3 linked regions of the Homo sapiens genome follow. The protein of the gene in region 3 purifies or fractionates together with the protein of the main gene of each other region. This does not show direct contact. Each region holds a gene or a part of one and is shown on either strand. Other genes may lie near its edges.

What was found.
Region 1: the proteins of OPRM1 (region 3) and XPO4 purify together in Homo sapiens (affinity purification with mass spectrometry; 2 studies listed by BioGRID and IntAct, with this or other methods). This does not show direct contact.
Region 2: the proteins of OPRM1 (region 3) and XPO7 purify together in Homo sapiens (affinity purification with mass spectrometry; 2 studies listed by BioGRID and IntAct, with this or other methods). This does not show direct contact.

Annotation. Positions count from the first base shown.
Region 1 is NC_000013.11:20,798,145-20,801,800, reverse strand, and holds part of XPO4 (exportin-4), read left to right. Parts: intron 1-810; coding exon 811-970; intron 971-1,475; coding exon 1,476-1,645; intron 1,646-2,461; coding exon 2,462-2,636; intron 2,637-3,656. UniProt on the Homo sapiens protein: Mediates the nuclear export of proteins (cargos), such as EIF5A, SMAD3 and isoform M2 of PKM (PKM2). In the nucleus binds cooperatively to its cargo and to the GTPase Ran in its active GTP-bound form.
Region 2 is NC_000008.11:21,978,612-21,982,267, forward strand, and holds part of XPO7 (exportin-7), read left to right. Parts: intron 1-1,472; coding exon 1,473-1,592; intron 1,593-3,119; coding exon 3,120-3,266; intron 3,267-3,656.
Region 3 is NC_000006.12:154,126,114-154,129,577, forward strand, and holds part of OPRM1 (mu-type opioid receptor), read left to right. Parts: 3' UTR 1-3,464. UniProt on the Homo sapiens protein: Receptor for endogenous opioids such as beta-endorphin and endomorphin. Receptor for natural and synthetic opioids including morphine, heroin, DAMGO, fentanyl, etorphine, buprenorphin and methadone.

The sequences.
Region 1 (3,656 bases), on a different chromosome or scaffold from region 3:
AAGCCGAATTTGAGTGATTAGAATCCTTTTCTCAGCACTGATATTCATTAGTGTGTAATGGGGTCTTTCCATTACCTCCTTTGCTTCCTTGCCTTTTGGCTAAAGTCAGGTTAAATATATATCACTTCTGATTATGTGCCCTCCTCAACAAAGACATTTCTGTTTGTCTGCATGTCACGCTATGTGATTGACACCACACGACCATATGAATTATGTAGTGTAGGAAAGGACAATATGTGTACTTACACAGGTAATCTTTCTAGCAAGAGTTTTATTTAAAAATACCATGAAGAATCAAGTTTACTAGGAAATATTGGATTTAAACAAGGCTCAATATTCAAAACTTTCTAAATAATTCCCAGATCTTGTACTGTAACATGACCATGATATAAAAACACAAACTATACTAACCAGGGTAGTTTTAAGTAGTGATGCTAAGTAGTACATGCTAAAAGAGTTTGGCATGTACTCTGAAGATTTAATTTGATGTATTTCTCCTGAAAATCTGAAAATTTTGAATCTGAAAATTCTCTTTAGCTAGTAATGCTGATATTCACACATGTGGTTACAACTTCAGCAGAAGGACATCTCTAGTGTTGACTCTTCCTTTCCTTATCTTGTCTCCTGCTTCGTGAAAGATCAGAAATAATATGGGACAGTTGTCTAAAACTCTGTAGATGAAATGTTCAAGTATAGCCTGACCTAAATCCAGAGAACTGAAAGACAAAAAAGGACTTTTAAGGAAAAAAATATGATTAGACAGCAACTAAATAAATAAAAGAATAAATGACTTCTGTTTTATACCTACAGGCTGTTGTCTGCCATTCTCAGAGTTTCAGAAGTTGAATCTCGAGCAATAAGAGCAGATCTCACTCATCTACTAAGTCCCCAGATGGGCAAAGATATTGTTTGGTTTTTAAAACGCTGGGCAAAGACTTATCTCCTGGTGGATGAAAAACTGTATGATCAGGTCAGAATGTAAAACTTAAAACTTCATTTGGATTTATGATGATAGCAGTTATAGAAGCAGGAACATTTTTCTTGGTGGTTTTTCATCAAAATAGAACTGTTTAAGAGCAGTTTAACATTTTCTGTGTGGAAGAGAATTATGTGACTGGAATGCTGTTTTAATGTGTTTTTGAGCACATCCCTTGATATCGTTTATTTTAACTGCTGTTGAAGATACAGATTATTATTTGGGAATAGATTATGCTTTTTTGTATTTGGTTTAATACTATGTTAATTTTTTAATACTATGGGAATAATAGAAGTTGACGGGAAAATCACACTGGAAAATGTGAGTGGATTGAGGATGTCTTTTTTTTTGACCAGTGGAAATGAGTACATGTGTAAAGTTGATGTGAAGTAAGCACTACTTCAGATTAGATACTAATTTCAGTTCGATTTTTCTCTGTTTTTTTTTTCTTGAGTTGATCTTTCTTGCTTACCTTAAAAAATTTGTTTCCTCTCTTAAGATAAGTCTGCCATTCAGTACAGCGTTCGGAGCAGATACAGAGGGTTCTCAGTGGATAATTGGCTACCTCTTACAAAAAGTCATCAGTAACCTCTCAGTCTGGAGTAGTGAGCAGGACCTTGCAAATGACACTGTGCAGCTCCTTGTCACTTTGGTGGAAAGAAGAGAAAGGTTAGCCCATTGTTGGAGGCTGACTGTGTGTGTATGTGTGTGGGTGAGAAACTCTTTTTCACTTCTTAGTGTAGTCCTTTGAACTGGCAAATGGTTACACGGTCCTAATTCCAGATAGAGCCTACATTTTTGGAGTAATGGGTTTTAAAAACTATGTCACAGTACTATTACAAATGCAAATGGAGCTTTCCCATCTTATAATTGAGCATTACATTGACTCCTTCAGGATTTGGCATCAAAGCCCTATGAGTAACACATTAGTAATTTATCGTGTTGCAAACACTTTTATGTGGAATATGCTCATTTGAATTTTTAGACATCCCCATTTTAAAGATTAAATACTGATATTTAAAATTTAATGTTGGAAAGTAAAATTTTTAGTGCTTTCTACAACAATTCTAGAAATGTTTTCGTTGTTCTTACTGTATAGGAGTATCATTGTTATTATTACCATTGTCATTGTCTGGTTTATTGAATTCTTATAATTTACTATGTACTCTTCTAAGCATGTCATAGGTAGTATCTCATTTAATCATTATATCAGTCTCAGCCCCAGGAGACTGTTATTATTCCTATTTTGCAGATTATAGAGAAGTGATGATTGATAGAGGTTAAATAAATTTTACATCACCAGACAACTAGTGGGATTTGAATGTAAGCCTGTGACTTCAAAGTCTATACTAAGTTTACTGTACTTTGCTTTAACAGTAATTAAATCTAGTTATTTTTTATTTTTGTTTTCTTTGTGTGTATATGTGTATGTGTGTATGTATATACATAGTAATACATCTTATGTTTTGTTATTTCTACCTGTAGGGCAAACTTAGTAATTCAATGTGAGAACTGGTGGAATTTAGCTAAGCAGTTTGCAAGCCGAAGCCCACCTCTTAATTTCTTGTCAAGTCCTGTGCAGAGGACATTGATGAAGGCTCTAGTCTTAGGAGGTTTTGCACATATGGACACAGAAACCAAACAGCAGTATTGGACAGAGGTAACAGTGCTGTCTATTTTGATTGCACCCTTTTGTGTAACTCTGTAGTTCCTTTATCTATGCGTTGCCGTAAGAGTCTCTGGAGACATAAATGTATCAGTCATAGCTTTTCTTTCTTTCTTTCTTTCTTTTTTTTTTTTTTCTGAGATAGGGTCTTACTCTGTTGCCCAGGCTGGAGTACAGTGGTGCAGTCTCAGCTCATTGCAGCCTCTACCTCCCAGGTTCAAGCGATTCTCCTGCCTCAGCCTCCCAAGTGGCTGGGACTACAGACTCATGCCACCATACCCAGCTAATTTTTGTTTTTTTTAGTAGAGACGGGCTTTTGCCATGTTGGCCAGGCTGGTCTCGAACTCCTGGCCTCAAGCAATCTGCCCGCCTTGGCCTCCCAAAGTGCTGGGATTACAGATGTGACCAGCCACTGTGCCCGGCCCAGTCATAGCTTTTCTGATATTTTTTCTCCTAATGAATGGGTTGAAGCTTCTTATTTTACAAATGTTGTCTTATAATTTTTCTGTACCTGCCTGTGTGTGATGACATTGAATATTATCAAGTGTTCTGCATTTTAGGCACATTTTTCACAACTCAGTCGAGAGCATGGACTGGCTTATTAAATTTTCATTAGGGATCAGGGAAATATTCTCCTGTCTTGAATAAGATGCAGATTAACCATGATATTCATTTCCTAGGGCTGCTCTAACAAAATACCACAACAGAAATTTGTTTTCTCCTACTTCTGGAGGCTAGAAGTCCAAGCTATAAGGTGTCCATGGGATTTGTTCTTTCTGAAGGCTATGAGGGAAAATCTGTAGCCTCTGGTAGCTTGCTGGCAGTCTTTGGCATTCCTTGATTTGTAAACGCATCACCCTGATCCCTGCCTTCATCTTCACATGCTCCCCCTGTGTGTGTCTGCATCCACACTTCCCCTTTCTATATCAGTTATATTGAACTAGGGGCCCACCCTATTCCGGTATGACCTCATCTGAACTAATTACATCTATGACAACCCTATTTTCTTTTTTT
Region 2 (3,656 bases), on a different chromosome or scaffold from region 3:
AGTACTACTTGCAAAGGTATGGGTAAAATTAAGGGACACCAGCACGGGGTGGTGGTGCATGCCCCTGGGGCTGGCAGTAGTGGGGAGCCTCAAAGGGCAAGTGAAGGAAACCTGGAGAGAGTTGAAGCTGTGTCTTAGAGGAGGGCTGGACAACAAGAACTACAGCCATCACTAGAGAAACTCTGCCACTGCATAGCCAGCTGGATGGTCGGAAGAGGGGTACCCTGTTCCCTCTGCCCTCTAATCTCCTGCTGGTACTTTCCATTGGTTGAAGCCAACTAGAAGCCAGAGGGCAAGGGAGCTTGGCTGCTCTCCTCAACAGAGGTCAGCCTCCTAGGGAATAGGGCAGGGTGGAAAAGGGTCGAAAGCAGATCTAGAGGGGGCAAACAGAGAATGTAAATATCTAACACAGTGGGAACAGAGGGAAATGTCTTCAGGGATAAAGCTGGGTTGTGTTTTTTTGTTTGTTTGTTTGAGGCAGAGTTTTGATCTTGTTGCCCATGCTAGAGTGGAATGGCACTACCCATGGGTTCAAGCGATTCTCCTGCCTCAGCCTCCTGAGTAGCTGGAATTACAGGCATGAGCCACCACGCCCGGCTAATTTTATATTTTCAGTAGAGACAGGGTTTCTCCATGTTGGTCAGGCTGGTCTCAAACTCCCGACCTCAGGTGATCTGCCTGTTTCAGCCTCCCAAAGTGCTGGGATTACGGGCGTGAGCCACCACACCTGGCCAAAGCTGGCTTTTTTAGGGCCCAGATGTGATATGCTTATTTCTTTTTTTTTTCTTTTTTTTTTTCGTTTTTTTTTGTTTTTGAGACGGAGTCTCTCACTGTTGCCCGGGCTGGAGTGCAGTGGCGCGATCTCGGCTCACTGCAGCCTCCGCCTCCCAGCTTCAAGCGATTCTCCTCCCTCAGCCTCCCAAGTACCTGGGATTACACGTGCCTGCCACCACGCCCAGCTAATTTTTTGTATTTTTGGTAGAGATGAGGTTTCACTATGTTTGCCAGGCTGGTCTCAAATTCCTGACCTCGTGATCTGCCTGCCTCAGCCTCCCAGAGTGCTGGGATTACAGGCGTGAGCCACCACACCCGGCCGATACGCTTATTTCTTTATAGCATGTAATGACATAAGCACATAACATCTACATGTCAAACTCAGATTAGCCAAGAAAACTAAATCTAAAACTTTAAAGTATAAATTGCTCGATATTTTTAAGGGTGAAATAACGTATCTCAGCAAGAACAAAGATGCCATTGGAGTGGTCAAAGGAATTTGTACCTAAGGGAATTTCCAAACTGAATTTAATGGGCTGCCGTGGTCTGCTTGGATCTATGTTCTTTTCTTTTCTCTTTTTAAAATAATGTTGCTTCAGATATCCTAAAGAAGGATATTGTAGGAGGTGGAACGTTTCTGGTGAAAGTAACTGTACAGTCTTTTTAATCGTTGTGTTTGGGTTCTGCCCTGCATTTAGGTATTATCCTGCTTGGTACAGATCGCTTCAGTCAGAAGATCCCTGTTTAACAATGCAGAGAGGGCCAAGTTTCTCTCTCATCTTGTTGATGGTGTTAAACGAATACTGGAAAACCCACAGGTAAGTTTATCTGAGAATTTACATATGTATAGGATTAGTGTATGGCCAGCTGTTATGAGTCAGAAGGAAATCCATCCCAAGGCCCAGTAAACAATTCAGTCTGTTCTTCAGGGAAGACTGAAGTGAATCTCTATTTGTAGGCCAATTCTGAGATTATTTGCCCAAAAGAGGAGCTTATATCCTCCCGCTTCAGAAATGTAGGAGTTACAGGAAAGAATCACTTCGCTATAAGGAAATAAGGAAGAAGCTAGTCATTTTTCCCCCCAAGAAGTTAAGACTCTAACATCTCCGGGCACAGAGGCTCACGCCTGTAATCCCAACAGTTTGGGAGGCCAAGGTGGGCAGATCACTTGAGGTCAGGAGCTCAAGACCAGCCTGGCCAACATAGTGAAACCCTGTCTCTACTAAAACTACAAAAAAAATTAGCCGGCCATGGTGGCACGTGCCTGTAATCCCAGCTACTCGGGAGGCTGAGGCAGGAGAATCGCTTGAACCCGGGAGGCAGAAGTTGCAGTGAGCCGAGATCATGCCATTGCACTCCAGCTTGGGCGACAGAGTAAGACTCCGTCTCAAAAAAAAAAAAAAAACTAACATTTGGTTTTTGATTTTGTTTACCATTTTTAAAAAATGTTTATCGGTAACCTAAGTATATAGGGCTGCTTTTAGGTGGGAAGGAAGATACTTCTTTCAAACGTTAATTTCATAACTCGATTGCCCTTTTTGTCTTTTGAAGTCCCAGTGATTCAGTATTTTTTTGAAAGTATCACTTCTCTATACTAGAAGAAAATTAAAAAGCAGTTTATTTCAAAATATACTCAGTTTTGTCCCTCTTTTTAAAATTCATTTATTCATTCAACAAATTACATTGAATACCTACTCTGTGCCAGGGATACACGGGTGAACAAAACAAAGTCTTAGCCCACATATGCTAACAGAAGAAGACATATCAGGAAACTTACAATTAAATATACTGGTAGAATAGATTTTAAAATAGCTGTAATATTTGCTATATCATATAAATACTACTATATGAATAAATTACAGTAAGTGATATAAATATATGAAACATTTGTATAACTTTGCTAACTATCGGTTAGTTGTGCTGAATGATCAGTTTGACAGACGTGGAAATGAAAATTTCATTAGATTTCCTTTGATTGGTAACAATAAGAAAACAAGTCAGTCACGTCTTAGGTCGTGCCCACTTCTGCTATAATGAGCTTTACAGCCTCAGTGTGATCCTCCTGGGCTTCTGTTTCAAACTCTGTCCATTGAGGCTAATAATGTCATCTCATGTGATTATTATTGTGAACATATGAGATAATAAATGTGACTGTCCCTTTTCAAAGTGACTTTAAAAAATTGTTTCTGAACATTATGCAGACGTATCATTCTGAATCATGACCTGCAGCCCAGAAGTTAAAAAGTAGATTCTACCCCTTCCCCCATGCCATCTCAAGTATACATCATTCTTGAAGTATGTTAAGGCACATTTTACATTTTATTTTTCTCCTCTGCTACTGCCAGAGTTTATCAGACCCAAACAATTACCATGAGTTTTGCAGACTACTGGCCCGATTGAAGAGTAACTATCAACTGGGAGAATTGGTAAAGGTGGAAAACTACCCTGAGGTCATCCGATTGATAGCCAACTTCACAGTGACCAGCCTACAGGTTTGTCTTTGATTACTTGTGTCTTCCTTCCTAAATACTGGAATCTCTTGCTTGTTGGTTTTAACCATGTAAGAATATATTTTTTTTTCTTGGCAAAGGTAACCATAAGTCCAGTATAGCCCTACAGAGTAGTTACTATTGTGGCCTGTGATTTACATTTACACAAGTGCAAGTAGTGTGGGGAGAGGAACATGTGGGAATTACTAGGATAATATTTAGATTCATCCCAGAGAGAATTAGCTCATAGTCACCCCAAAAAAGCCAAGGTCGGAACAGGGAGCTAGACAGAAGAGTAAAAAGAGAGTTGATGCCCTCTCTTTCTTAGTCATGTAATATAGAACAATGGGTCTCAAATTTTATGGCTTGTATCACAGTCATCTAGGGGACTGA
Region 3 (3,464 bases):
TTTTGATAAATTCACAGGGTTACAAAATACCAAACGGAAATGAGATAAGTGGTATAAACCACAGAAGATATAGGAGAAGAGAAAAAAAAAAGAGGAAATAAAGAAGACAACTCTTTTCCTAAGAGTCTGGGTAAAATTGAACATAGCCATATTCACTGAACAACATGAGTGAGCTTCATTAATTTAAGCACAGCAAAACTGCTTTAATTAACAAGACCAGAGAGAAGGGAGAGGAGACTACATTTGTGTGACCTAATGGTTGTGATTTCACTGTCCAAGAGGACAAAGACAAAGAAATTCTGGGAAGGAGAACAACAATTATATTCCCCCATTTCAAGAAGGGCAGAAGTGTCCCAACACTACCCAATATTTGCAAAATTCAAATGTCTCATAGGCTCTTCTTCCCTGGTTCCCTCAGGAGCTGGGTTTCTGGGTTGCAGAAGTGCTTTTCATATTCTGTATCTGGTTGTGGTGGCAATGTCACCACCCTACACTGCTGTGACACCGAAACAACCAAGCCTAGAATCAGCTGGTGCCTCTTTTCATCTGCAGGGTAGATTTGGCTTCCATGGTTGTTCACTGCTCTGTGTTAGGAAGGCTCAGTGACAGGTGTACAGCCTTCAGTAATGCCTCAAAGGTTCTCCAAGCAGAGGTAAACATGTGGGTCCTGCTGGTGACATATTAGACTTCTTACTTTCCCCAAATAAAAAAGTGCCTGCTGGGCGCGGTGGCTCACGCCTGTAATTCCAGCACTTTGGGAGGCCGAGGCGGGCGGAACACAAGGTCAGGAGATCAAGACCATCCTGGCCAATATGGTAAAACCCCATCTCTACTAAAAATACAAAATTAGGAAGGCGTGGTGGTGCACGCCTGTAATCCCAGCTAGTCGGGAGGCTGAGGCAGGAGAATTGCTTGAACTGGGGAGGCGGAAGTTGCAGTGAGCCAAGATCGCAGCATTGCACTCCAGCCTGGGCAACAGAATGAGATTGTCTCAAAAAAAAAAAAAAGTGCCACATGCCATGCTATGTGCCCAAAGTTTCCTTCACACAACACAGCCTTGAGATGCAGTATTAAATTCTACACTTTTCCTACCATAGTGATACATGTGGCTTTTCTTTGCTGTGTTCTGAGATGTCATGCTTTGAAATCAGTGGCCATTATCATCTAAGGATTCCGCCAGAGACTTCCAAAAGAAGAGGTCTCATTTATAAAGTGAATTTGAATAAAATGACCAGTTAGGTGTTTTCAGAAACACCTATGCCCTACTTGCCTACTCTTCAAGGGTTTAGGGGCTTAGGGGGAGGTTTTGTTTGGGTTTTTTGTTGCTGTTGCTTGTTTATTTGTTTGTTGTGTTTAAGACGTTTTACTTGTCCCTGAAATGTTTGTCATCACACAGATACACGCTCAGGATAAGAACTACCAGACTAGATTAGGAGGTCCACACCACCAATTGAGATGTACCTGTGCTCATGACTTGACATTGTGGTGGGCCGGCTACAACCCTCCCCACCCCTCGCTTTCACTAAATAACAACTCTCTTCTCTCCATCATTTTGACTTAGAGCCAGTCAGAATTCAATCTCCAATATCCTGACTAGCACAAGAAATCCATAGGTTGATTCTTGTTCTCCTGCATCTCTGCAGGTGGCAAACCTGATTCCTAATGCCTGTTCCTGCCTCTGCAGGGGTTCATTCAGAAAACAGGAAAATAACAAAGGCTTCCTGTAATTCTCTTTGGCTGTAATACAATTTGTTCCCGTCTGCCCCCAGGCTCACCCAGTGCTCTGTCTCAGTGGTAAGCTGTAACTGATCACTGCTGTATTAACTCAAAACTCATTTGCTTTATGGAAATTCATGGCCCTTATTTCTCAAGGGACCAGAGAAAACCAATAGGCCTACTCCCCAGCTGAGTACTTTCCATGCAAGCTACCGCATCTGTATAAATTAGGTTCAAATAACAGAGTATTTCCAGGATTTATAAATTCAGTATTACAAATAGTAATCTGGCAAGTGTTCTCAGGATCCCCTTGCTACCTGTAATTCAATCATATAACTTCTGAATGGGCTGGGGGAAAATAACAATAAGAAAAACTGGTGTTTACCTGAAGATCTGCCCAGTGATTTGTGTGTTTTCTTAATAAACTTTACCCACTTATTAAAAGAATAAAATGAAGGTGGAGTTAATTCTGACTACGGGATTCCTTTTTCACTTTTATAATGAACTCCTTCCTTCTAACTAAATCTTATCATAAGCAAATCTATGCACCAAATTATTTAGTACAATTCCTAATAACAGCTGAAGGACCATTTATTTGAAGCAATGTTCACCATAGCAAAATTCCAGTGAAGTCTAAGAACTGGGACAGTCCGTTGAGGATCCTTGTGCCAGGATGTATGTTGCCCCATGAATGTGCACATGCATATTAAAATATGGGCACCTCTTTTAATTCTTTTTTTTCTCATAATAAGTTTGAAACTCACAGTAGGAAATTGAGAGATCAATTTGGTTACTGTTTTATCATTGATCCTGAAGACAGTTGAAGCAATCATACTGGTTGTTCTCGAACTAGCTGGTTTCCCAGAGACAGCTGGAGACTGAGCACATAAAGACATCATTGAGGAAAAAGGCTACCTTGTACCTCATGGAGAGCTGAAGGTCTGATAAATGGGAACTGCCAGGTAATAGCTATGCTATTTCTGACATAAATTTAAAAACTAGTATTGTTTCTTCTAGCTCTGTTTTTGCATAGTGCACAGAGATCTTTGTAAAAAACAGGAAATTAATGTTAAATTGGATCTATAAACATAAGTCAATTTGGCTCTATTATGTCAAAAGAGAATAGGAGTTTTAACTTATATCTGTGTTTTATTAATATTTTGAAGTATAGGAACCTCATGGTGTAGCAGGATGAGCCACAGACAAAACCTCTCAGACACCGAGTTGTAGAAGGAAGGGCTTTATTCAGCTGGGAGCATCGACCAGCTACTGTCTCAAAATCCAAGCTCCCTGAGTACACAATTTCTGTCCCTTTTAAGGGCTCACAACACTAGATTTCACATGAAAGGGTCGTGATTGATTTGAGCAAGCAAGGGGTATGTGACAGGGGCTGCATGCACCGGTGGTCTGGGAGGAACAGAACAGGACAGGGAGTTCTTCTATACAATAGAGAACAGAACAATGTTCTTCTATACAATGTAAGGAATCTATGAATAACATCGGCTTCTAAATCATAAGTTGATTTTTAACTACTGGGTTTAGGCCAGGCGGGCCCAGGCCTGGTTTCGGGCCTGGCGCTGAGCTGCCTGTATTTGGTTTTACTTCCTTGTTGTTTTTACTGAATATGAAACAATATAAAACAATGTGAGAGGGTCTTTCTCTCCTCTCAATGTCAACATCATATATGATTGGAGACTTCCACATAATTGAGTTTTAGTGCCCACTGTTACAGAAAATCATAATGGAAA